Linked DNA regions of Homo sapiens: region 1 is linked to region 2. The links come from fine-mapping of genetic effects on gene expression. Tissue or cell type: whole blood. Region 2 holds a variant in brackets; the other region holds the start of a gene. All regions are shown on one strand. Distances are from middle to middle.

Region 1 (4,388 bases), 35 kb after region 2:
AAAAAAAGGCATGGTTAGAATGCTATAAGAAGGGCATCATGGCTGGGTGAGGAAGAGAGTGGCAGGACCCACAGCCAGAATTCCCGGAAGGCAGGAATTTGAATTGGCTCTGGGCAGCAAGTGCCTTTCATTATTCTGAGCTTCATATATCCTCATGCTTCCTTTCCTAGGCCTGGCCAAGCCCTTGATGGTCATTCTTAAGTCAAGCTGAACACCAGCTGGCTCTGTGAAGCTCTCTCTTCCTTTCCCAGTCAGTCTGCACTAGCTGTCTTCTTTGAGCTAGCAGATGCTGCCACATACTTTCGCACTTAATTGCGCTCTAATTGTTTCACAGGTGCTGGTTTTGTCTTCCTACTTAGACCTAGGAGCTTTTGGACAGCAGGGACTATGCCTCAAACTTGGGTTTGTCCCAGAGAGCGGAAGACACTATACGCTGTTGCTCTCACATTAAGGGACCAAGGCTGGGAATCACTTAAGCTTCAGAAATCTGATTGAAGCTTTGGATCTGCCTTCTGCATTCTTTTCCACAATGTTAAGAGTGAAACAAACACATCTGGATGCAGTAACTGGACATTCCAGTGCTGTCTGCTGTTTAAGTCTGTTAGTATACAGAGACAAATAAACAGGAGAGTTTTGCTTTCAACACTCAGCAGAGCCAAACTTCCTGATGCACGGGAATGAACAACGGAGGCACTGTTCTGGAAACACCGTCCTCCAGAGAGGCGCTCCCTCCTCAGAAACAACACCGAAAACCTGGCATGGCTGGTTTTGCATTCAGACAATGGCACCTACATGCTTTTTGCTTTGCTCAGAGCTGTAAATATCCAAAGAGGTGATCCTCTGCCATCATTTTGGAAGGAAGAATCAGTCAGACTGATAATTAGGGTCATACGCACAGGCATGGTCATGCTGATTGTTGAAATTTAGATTATTTTTGGCCCAGCACAGTGGCTCACACCTGTAATGCCAGCACTGTGGGAGGCCAAGACAGGCGGATCACCTGAGGTCAGGAGTTTGAGATCAGCCCGACCAACATGGTGAAACCCCATTTCTACTAAAAATACAAAAATTAGACAGGCGTAGTGGTGGGTACCTGTAATCCCAGCTACTTGGGAGGCTGAGGCAAGAGAATCGCTTGAACCCTGGAGGCAGTGGTTGCAGTCAGCCGAGATTGTGTCACTGCAGTCCAGCCTGGGCGGCAGAGTGAGACTGTCTCAAAAAAAAAATTACATATATATATATATATATATATATATATATATATATATAGAGAGAGAGAGAGAGAGAGAGAGAGAGAGAGAGAAAGAGAGAGAGAGAGATTATTTTTGTACTGCTTAGTAATTAGCTTTAGCACGGTCTCTCCTCTGGGACCTCCCCTGGAATTTCCCCACAATCCAGTAACTGAATAATTAGCATCCAGCCCCACAGAACTTCTCCCAGGGCCCTGCTCCAGGGCTTCCCTTCTGACTGGCTGTGCATGGCACACTGGGAATTGTTTTCTGCCCACAAGAACAAGGGTGAACTGAGTCAAGGAGTCCAAGAGATCTTGGACGCACTTCTCAGAATTCGGAGGGGCTGGGTAAATGCAGGAGAAAATTGATGAAACCACATTGGCCCTGCAAGAGCCTGACTGCTCCTGCACGGTAGCTACCCCTAGCATTAGCGGGGAGTCACCAATGCCTCTTCCAGGCACTGAGCAAGAGGGCGGCATTACAGATGCACTTGCCGTCCAAACAGATCATCTCATTGACTAGGTGACTGCTCAGCAACAGTATCTGAAGGACACTAGGGTTACTCTGCTTGTTTGCAGTTCACGGTGCTGGACGGATGTGTTCCCAACACTAGGTAACAACACCGCTCTCCCTCCTCCGGGAGAAAGCCGCAGCCGTCGATTCCCACCCAACAGGGCCTCAGCGCCTTCCCAGGGCAGCACCCTCACTCCTGCAACCACCAATCACCCAAGCCACAGCATGGTCCCAGACCCACCCTCGCCCCTTAGGAAATGGCTTTCCAATTGTGTTTTCACAGGAGCATGGCCACTGGGCAATGATCTTCACAGGCAGGCTTTTTTTTCCCCCTCTCAACATAAAGGCCAGCAATATTTACCACGGAGTCTTGGCCAGTGTGCACTGCCTGGTGCTGTGGGGTGGGGTGTTTAGGGCCTTTTGTTGAGCAGCTCAGTGACTTTCTGGGATTTCCATGGCCCTGCTGGAGATGGCCCTCTGTCTCCCTTTTCCAAGGAAGAAAGTGACTGGGGACAAGCCACCTGCCTCTTCCACAGGGTGGGGGCGAGAGTGACAGCGAGACAGCACAAGAAGGACCCGCTCTGTTTCAAAGCGAGGATGTGAGTGACTTCGTCTGTGCCGAGGTCTCTTCGTCTCCAACCTGCCGGGCACAGGGCACCCACATGACACGCTCACCCCGTCCCTGGGCCGAGGGACCCCACGTCTCGCGGGTGCCGCGGGGCAGAGAGCGCCGCCTAGTGAGGCGGCGCGAGTTGGACATAGACTGGAAAATAGACCCGGACAGCCCGGGAGGAGGGCGGAGAGGAGTCCGACCTCCGCAGGCAGCCGCGTCCCCGCCCCGCGCTGCCTACGACTTAGGGCCCCCGGCCCATCCCCTGCCGCTGCAGGGCGCTCACCTCTGGGACGCCTCCCCGCGCCGCCTGCGCCACGGTTGGCTCCTCCCGGACGCAAAAGCGGCGCCCTCGCTCGGGCTCCTGAAAACCTCGCGGCCCCGCCCACGGAAGGGCCCGCCCACCTGCCAGGCCACGCCCCCGTCTCGGCCACGCCGCAGCTCAGGGTTTTCTCTGAGGGCTGTGAGAGGCTAGGCCCGGGGAGAGGAGGCAGAGGTTATGCTCCGGTCTCTGCAGACTTCCACAGTGTCTATCGAGATCACACATGCCAGCATTGCCCCCTCCCATCCTCTCCTCATCGTACGGAGGAGGAAACCCAGGCCGAAGACCTGAAGTGTCCAAAAGCACAGCCAGGCCAAAGAGAAGCACCATCCCATGTTCTCCCACTCCCACTCCGGTGCTTCTTCAGGTAGGCTAAACTTCAGGCTAAAATGTGAAGATCACAGTGACACATTCCTGTCAGCAGAATCTGCTGCATATGTTTGGGAGCTGGGGTGTTTGGAAGCTCCGATTTTGTGTGGAGGACCCAAGAGAGAAGACAGACCCTTCCTGTCCTATAAGAACAGTGCTCCTCCTGCCCTAACTTCTCTTTTCCTTTTTCTAACTCCCTCTGCCTATGGGGTTTGCTGAAACTTTCAGGAAAAGGGACGTGTCAAAAGAAAGAAATGGACACCCCAGAGGCCGTGCAACCACAGGGTTAAAAGGAGGTAGCCTTATGAGAAAGCGGTGGAGTGGCTTTCTGGGGTGAAACCCAGTTCAAGGACAGAAATAGCACTGTCTTGAGTTAAGACTGGTGGTGGGGGAAGCCTGGGGGTGGGGCGCAGACTGCAGGCGGAGGAGCTCCCTGCCACCTGCCACTTGGGGTGTAATCACAGAGCAGCTGACACTCCCCACTCACTGCCTGGAGGAGCTTGGCGGTGGGATCGGGCAAGGCGGGAAAGATAGGTGTAAAACAAAGCCTGGCACTTAATTACAGTGCAAAGATCTCATTATAGAGTCTTCTCAGCTCCCCTCCTCGGCTGGCAGCTTGAAGCCTGAGTGACAAATTGCCTAGGTAGGTCTCCAAGGGCTGTATGTAGAGGGATGAAACCACCTCCCTGCCCACCCGAACCCCACTGTGGGGGCTGTGGAGAGGGAGGGGATGTTCACACTCTGGCATATGCAGGGGGCAGTGGGGAAGTCTGTAAGGGCACCTAGAAAGCAGTAAGAGCTGGGAGCCACAGTGGCCCTAGCCTGACATAAATAACACCTTGCTGGGGCAAGCCCAGTGTTCCCTCTTTTGGTAGTGGAACCGAGGGCAAGGTTGGGGACAGCTTGACGTGTGGCACTGTTTACTCTGCATCATAGGTGGATGCTGCAAGACCAGCAGGGGCCTGGCTTATCATGCAACTTTGTGAATATGTGGGAGAGAGGAGCCTTCCAGACGGTGTTATGGCCTCCCAGGAACTCCCAAAGCCCCCTCCCCAGGGTGGCATCTGGTTTTGGACACTGGTTTCTGTCACTGAGCTCCAGGGACTCATGTCACACCTGGAAGAACTTTTAGATTCTGTCTGCCTGGCCATGTCTTCCAACAGCCGAGATCATTGAGGAAGATGACAACTTCTACCTGAACAGCCAGGACAGCTTAGGGTCTTCTCACATGTGGACCTTGAAATGCACTTCTGTTATTTTTCTCCAGTATATTCAGGGGAAGGGGGCTGGTGATCAAAGCTTTTGCTGAGCAGGAACAGAAGGGTTGTCACTTGCTTTTTTC
Region 2 (4,388 bases):
GTTTCAATTGCTCCCCAGCCTTGCCAATACTTGGTACTGTCAGTCATCTTAATTTTAGCCATTCTGGTGGGTGGGTAGTGGGATTGCAATGTTGTATCAATTTGCGTGTCTCTGATCACTAAAGGAGGTTGAGTATCTTTTCGTTTCCTTATTGGACATTGGATAGCCTTTTGTGAAATTCTTAAGTGTCATGTCCATTTTTCTTTTCTGTAGTCTTTTTCTTATTGATTTGTAGAAGTTCTTTTAGATTTTGCCTGTGAGTCCTTTTTGGATACGTGTATTACAAATATCTCCCTCCATGCTAAAGTTTCCCTTTTCATTCACTGATAGTCTTTTTTTGGTAATAGATGGTCTTAATTGCATTGTAGTCAGCTTTCTCGATTTCCTTCTTCTCTTGCCTCTTGGCCCTATTTACTACCTTGCAACTTTCCCGTGTCTTTAAATAGATTCTAAAAAAATAGTTTCTCCAGCTTTTCTAGATGCTCCCAATGGAAGAACTGGGCAGAACTTCCTCAGGCAATCATCATTAATTTGTATGGTTCTTTCTTCTGGCATTTTCATACTTCTAAATATATATATTTGGAACACTATTTCTTGATTTAATATTGTAGACTTTTTTGTAATCAATTTTACATTGTGGTACATGAGCATTTAACTATCTTAAACTTTTACTCCACAGTCTCTTGTCCTCTTAACGTGGTTCTTTCATGATTTAAAACTTCAAACCGCATTTGCTTTACATAATATCAAGACTCTCTAAAACATTCTTCACTGCAAGTGCACGTGGTTGGCAAGGGATTTTCAGAGTCAGTTGTATTTGGCATGAGTGGGATTCTCTTTGAAGTTTTCAGCAGCTCTAGTCAATATTCTAGATCTTTCCAGAATAGTTGCAGTTTCAACTACAGAAAGCTCTAGCCATTCTGAGATTGAACTGTGGTAGTTTCTCACCATTTTGGAGTGACCCCAGAGGTCTGTGCTATGTGGAATTTATCTATTTCCTGAGGCCTGGCTTTGAATCACTGCGCCATGGAAGACAGGGCAGTCACTTAGCAACCAGTGTCTCAGCAGACTCCCCAGGGCCCACTTCCCAATGTGGCTCCGTTGGGCCTTCCTTTTGCCATGTACACAGCAAGTCTTGTGACGTGATAAAGACTTGGGAAAATGGCCTCAAAAAGAATTCCAACTGCTGGGCCTGACCATGGGAAAGAAGACAAAAGAATTTTAGTAAGTTTTGGATCTTTGCCAGAAAAGGGAAGTTTTGAAATAGAGTGGTATGTTGAAACTAACAGTGGCTAGGATGTAGACATGAACAGGTCCCCCATACACTCTATACAGAGACCACAAAAGATGCCTTTTAAATGTGTTTCATTAGGAAAATTACCTGTAATTCGTGTTTTTAAATAAGAAGATTAGAAAAGGCTGTGGGATAGACTCCTTTCCTATGTTGAGAGTTATCTGTGTTTCAGCTTGTTCTTCCTGTAAAGACACCTGCACTTGTCATTTTACATGTCCCAGGTTTGGTTTGGAAAACAGAGTCATAGCGATGGTCACCCAAACCAAGGGAGGTCCCTGGTGTAGCACTACCTCCAACCCCTAGCCGGACTAGGAAACCCCTTTCCCTAGGAGTCCTGTTCATACAAGGTGTTCTGACCAGGAGATTTCTTCAGTGTCCTGGGTGCCCCTCCCACCCCCTAGAGCTGGGGGAAAACCATGGCTGAGCAGCAGGTG[G/A]GACAGGAGGGCATGAAACCGAGCAGAGTGGTCTTTCCACAGTCTTCCTGATTTGCGGTTATACCTGTTACTGACACAGTATACTTTTGTTTTGTCTCCTTCCTTCTTTTTTTTTTTTTTTGAGTTAGGATCTCGCTCTGTCACCCAGGAGTGCAGTAGTGCCATCTTGGCTCACTGCAATCTCCGCCTCTTGGGTTCGAGGAATTCTCCTGCCTCAGCCTCCCTAGTAGCTGGGATTACAGGTGTGCACCACCACACCCAGCTAATTTTTGTATTTTTAGTAGAAACGGGGTTTCACCATGTTGGGCAGGCTGGTCTCAAACTCCTGACCTCAAGTGATTGGCCCACCTTAGCCTCCCAAAGTGCTGGGATTACAGGCATGAGCCACCAGTGCCTGGCCCTGTTTTACTGTATTTCTTAGCACAGGGTTCCAGGAGACCTTATTCACTGCAAATTCATGTGGGTTCTGTTTTCCTCCCCACCCCCTCAGCTCTCCATTCTAGCCCCGTTCCTAGCTGCTAATCCAGGCTGCCACTGTCCCACTACCCAGGAGGCCTGTGCCATGCCTGGCCATTTGAAATAGTGTTCAGGGGTGTCTGACAGCCTGTGGTCTCCTGCCCTTTTCAGCTTACCACTCAGCACCTCCATGGATATCTTGCTCTCTCAGGCCCTCATCCTCCCTGCCCCTCCAGTGGAAAGTCTAATAACAGCAGGTGTTGCCATGAGGGAGGCTGGGCTTCCCAGTATACTTCACTCATCCACAAGACATTTACTAAGCACATACTGTGGGCCAGGCACAAACTGGGCCTGCGATACACAGATGAACAAGACAAGATCCTGACTGCAGTGTCTCACAAACTAAGCCGTCCATACACATACATAAACACACTGGCGCAACACAATGTCATGTATCAGTGACAGAAAATCTGTCACTGGGGTCATGAGGGATGGGCAGTCTTGCTAAACAAGGAAATTCATCAGGCAGACGAGTGGTAGGATGGGGAGAAGAAATTCCATGGGGAGGAAGAAGCATGGGCAGATGTGTAAGTGGGAAACCCTTGAATGGTCCCCAAACCATAAGTGATCTGCTACAGCCAGTGAGGGCAGGACACAGAAGACAAGGTCTTTCCTCAGGGAACTTATCTTCCAGAGAGGCGGGCAGCCGGGCAGGCTCAGAAAAAAGGATAGAGGAAGTAGTAGTAAGTGCTACTTTTAAAAGACCAGATAAAGTGTCAAGAGTTTTCACAAAAGGGAGAGAGGACTTTGGGTTAGGGATCCCAGGGAGCTTCATGGGCTGGATTTTGAAGAAAACGAAGAAAACGTAGGATGGATGTGCAGAGATGGGAGAAGAATCCAGAGGAAAGAGGTACAGTGGGGACTGCATGGTGTGCGTGAAAATAATGCCATCGCTGGGTGCAGGGAAAGCTCGGTCTCATTGATTAGAAGTGGCCAAAAGAAGTTGGGATGAGAATAGCGTGTATGTGTGTGTGTGTGTGTGTGTGCGCGCGTGTGTGTGTTGGAGGAGTCAGGATTGAGGGGCCCAGTGAGGGGAAGAAGGTGACAGTTTGGAGAGCTGAGTCCCAGACCCATGTGTACCCCTCAAACTGCAGGAGCTGACCTGGAGTTACGCTGGACTTGGAGGAGGCAGTGTGTGAAGCTATGGGGTAATTTTGGCACAGTTTCCTTGTTTTAAGTATTCTTAATCCTTTTGCAAAAACACATTTCTATATTAATAAACATGAAAAAAAGAACAGAATGGAAAATACACATAGATTTCATTTAAGATAAAAAAATACAACTTCAGTGAAATTGCAACTGCCCCCCAGGAGGCCTTCAGTGTATGTGTTCTCTTGTGGTCATTAGGGCAACGAAGGAAAAGATCTGAGAAGCCCTGACATCCTTGGCCAATTTAATTTTCACAGGAATTCTATGACATAGATGCTGTTACGTGAGAAAATGTAGGTCCAGCAAGGGCATACCAAGGCCAAGGTTACATGGCTAATACACAGCTGACTCAGAACTCAACCCAGGATCTGTGTGCAAAGTCCATGTTCTTCATGCAACAGCCTGAGCAGCTGATCAATGAGGTGTGCTAGGAAACAAAGCTGAAAAGGTAGGTTGGTGATAAATCATGGAAGGTCTTGAAGGCCAGGCTTAAATAAAGGCAGCATGTGAGAGAAAGTTCTTGGCTCACTAGGGCGAGACCTGGAGAAGCCGAAGGTAAGAACATGAAGTGCAGTACAGTCACAAGACAGGTAGTGACTCATTCATCCCAGCTTCTTTGGGGCCACCTCTTATCTATGAGACAAAGTGTGACTTGCACTCAACAGTGGCATTGTTTCTGTGGCAAAAGAAGGAAATGTGCCTCTGCTTCTGTTTGTTTTCTACTTAATGTTGTTTTGCAGAACACAGAGAACGCAGAATCATGGACCATCCCATTTTTTAGCTGAATGCTAGAGAAAGCACGTCAGCCATCTGCAACTTCTCCCAAGGTGCCCTTCCCATGATTAGGATACATTCCATAATCAACACAGCAGGACAGAACGGTATTATTGGATCTGAAAGAAAATCAATGGAGACTGGAAACCTCTAAGGGCAGTTGCAATTTTCTAGATCTATTATTTTCCATTTGGAGGTTAGTGAGACAGAACATGGTGTTG

What was found. PIP is the estimated chance that this variant, and not a neighbour inherited with it, causes the effect.
Region 1: TLR5 starts here. The variant in region 2 is fine-mapped to the expression of TLR5 in whole blood (TOPMed, PIP above 0.99).

Annotation. Positions count from the first base shown.
Region 1 is chr1:223,140,555-223,144,942 of GRCh38, forward strand. TLR5 (toll like receptor 5) reads right to left here and starts at 2,694. Exons shown (of 6, transcript NM_003268.6): 1 at 2,642-2,694; 2 at 1,094-1,209. It overlaps LOC124904522 (a long non-coding RNA gene), which reads left to right and starts at 2,801. Exons shown (of 2, transcript XR_007066895.1): 1 at 2,801-3,044. RefSeq lists a silencer at 2,483-2,852.
Region 2 is chr1:223,105,920-223,110,307 of GRCh38, forward strand. It overlaps TLR5 (toll like receptor 5), which reads right to left. Exons shown (of 6, transcript NM_003268.6): 6 at 3,485-4,388. Among named protein-coding and RNA genes, the nearest start is that of TLR5, 35 kb to the right of the region's middle. The variant G/A (reference allele first, on the strand shown) is at 1,729.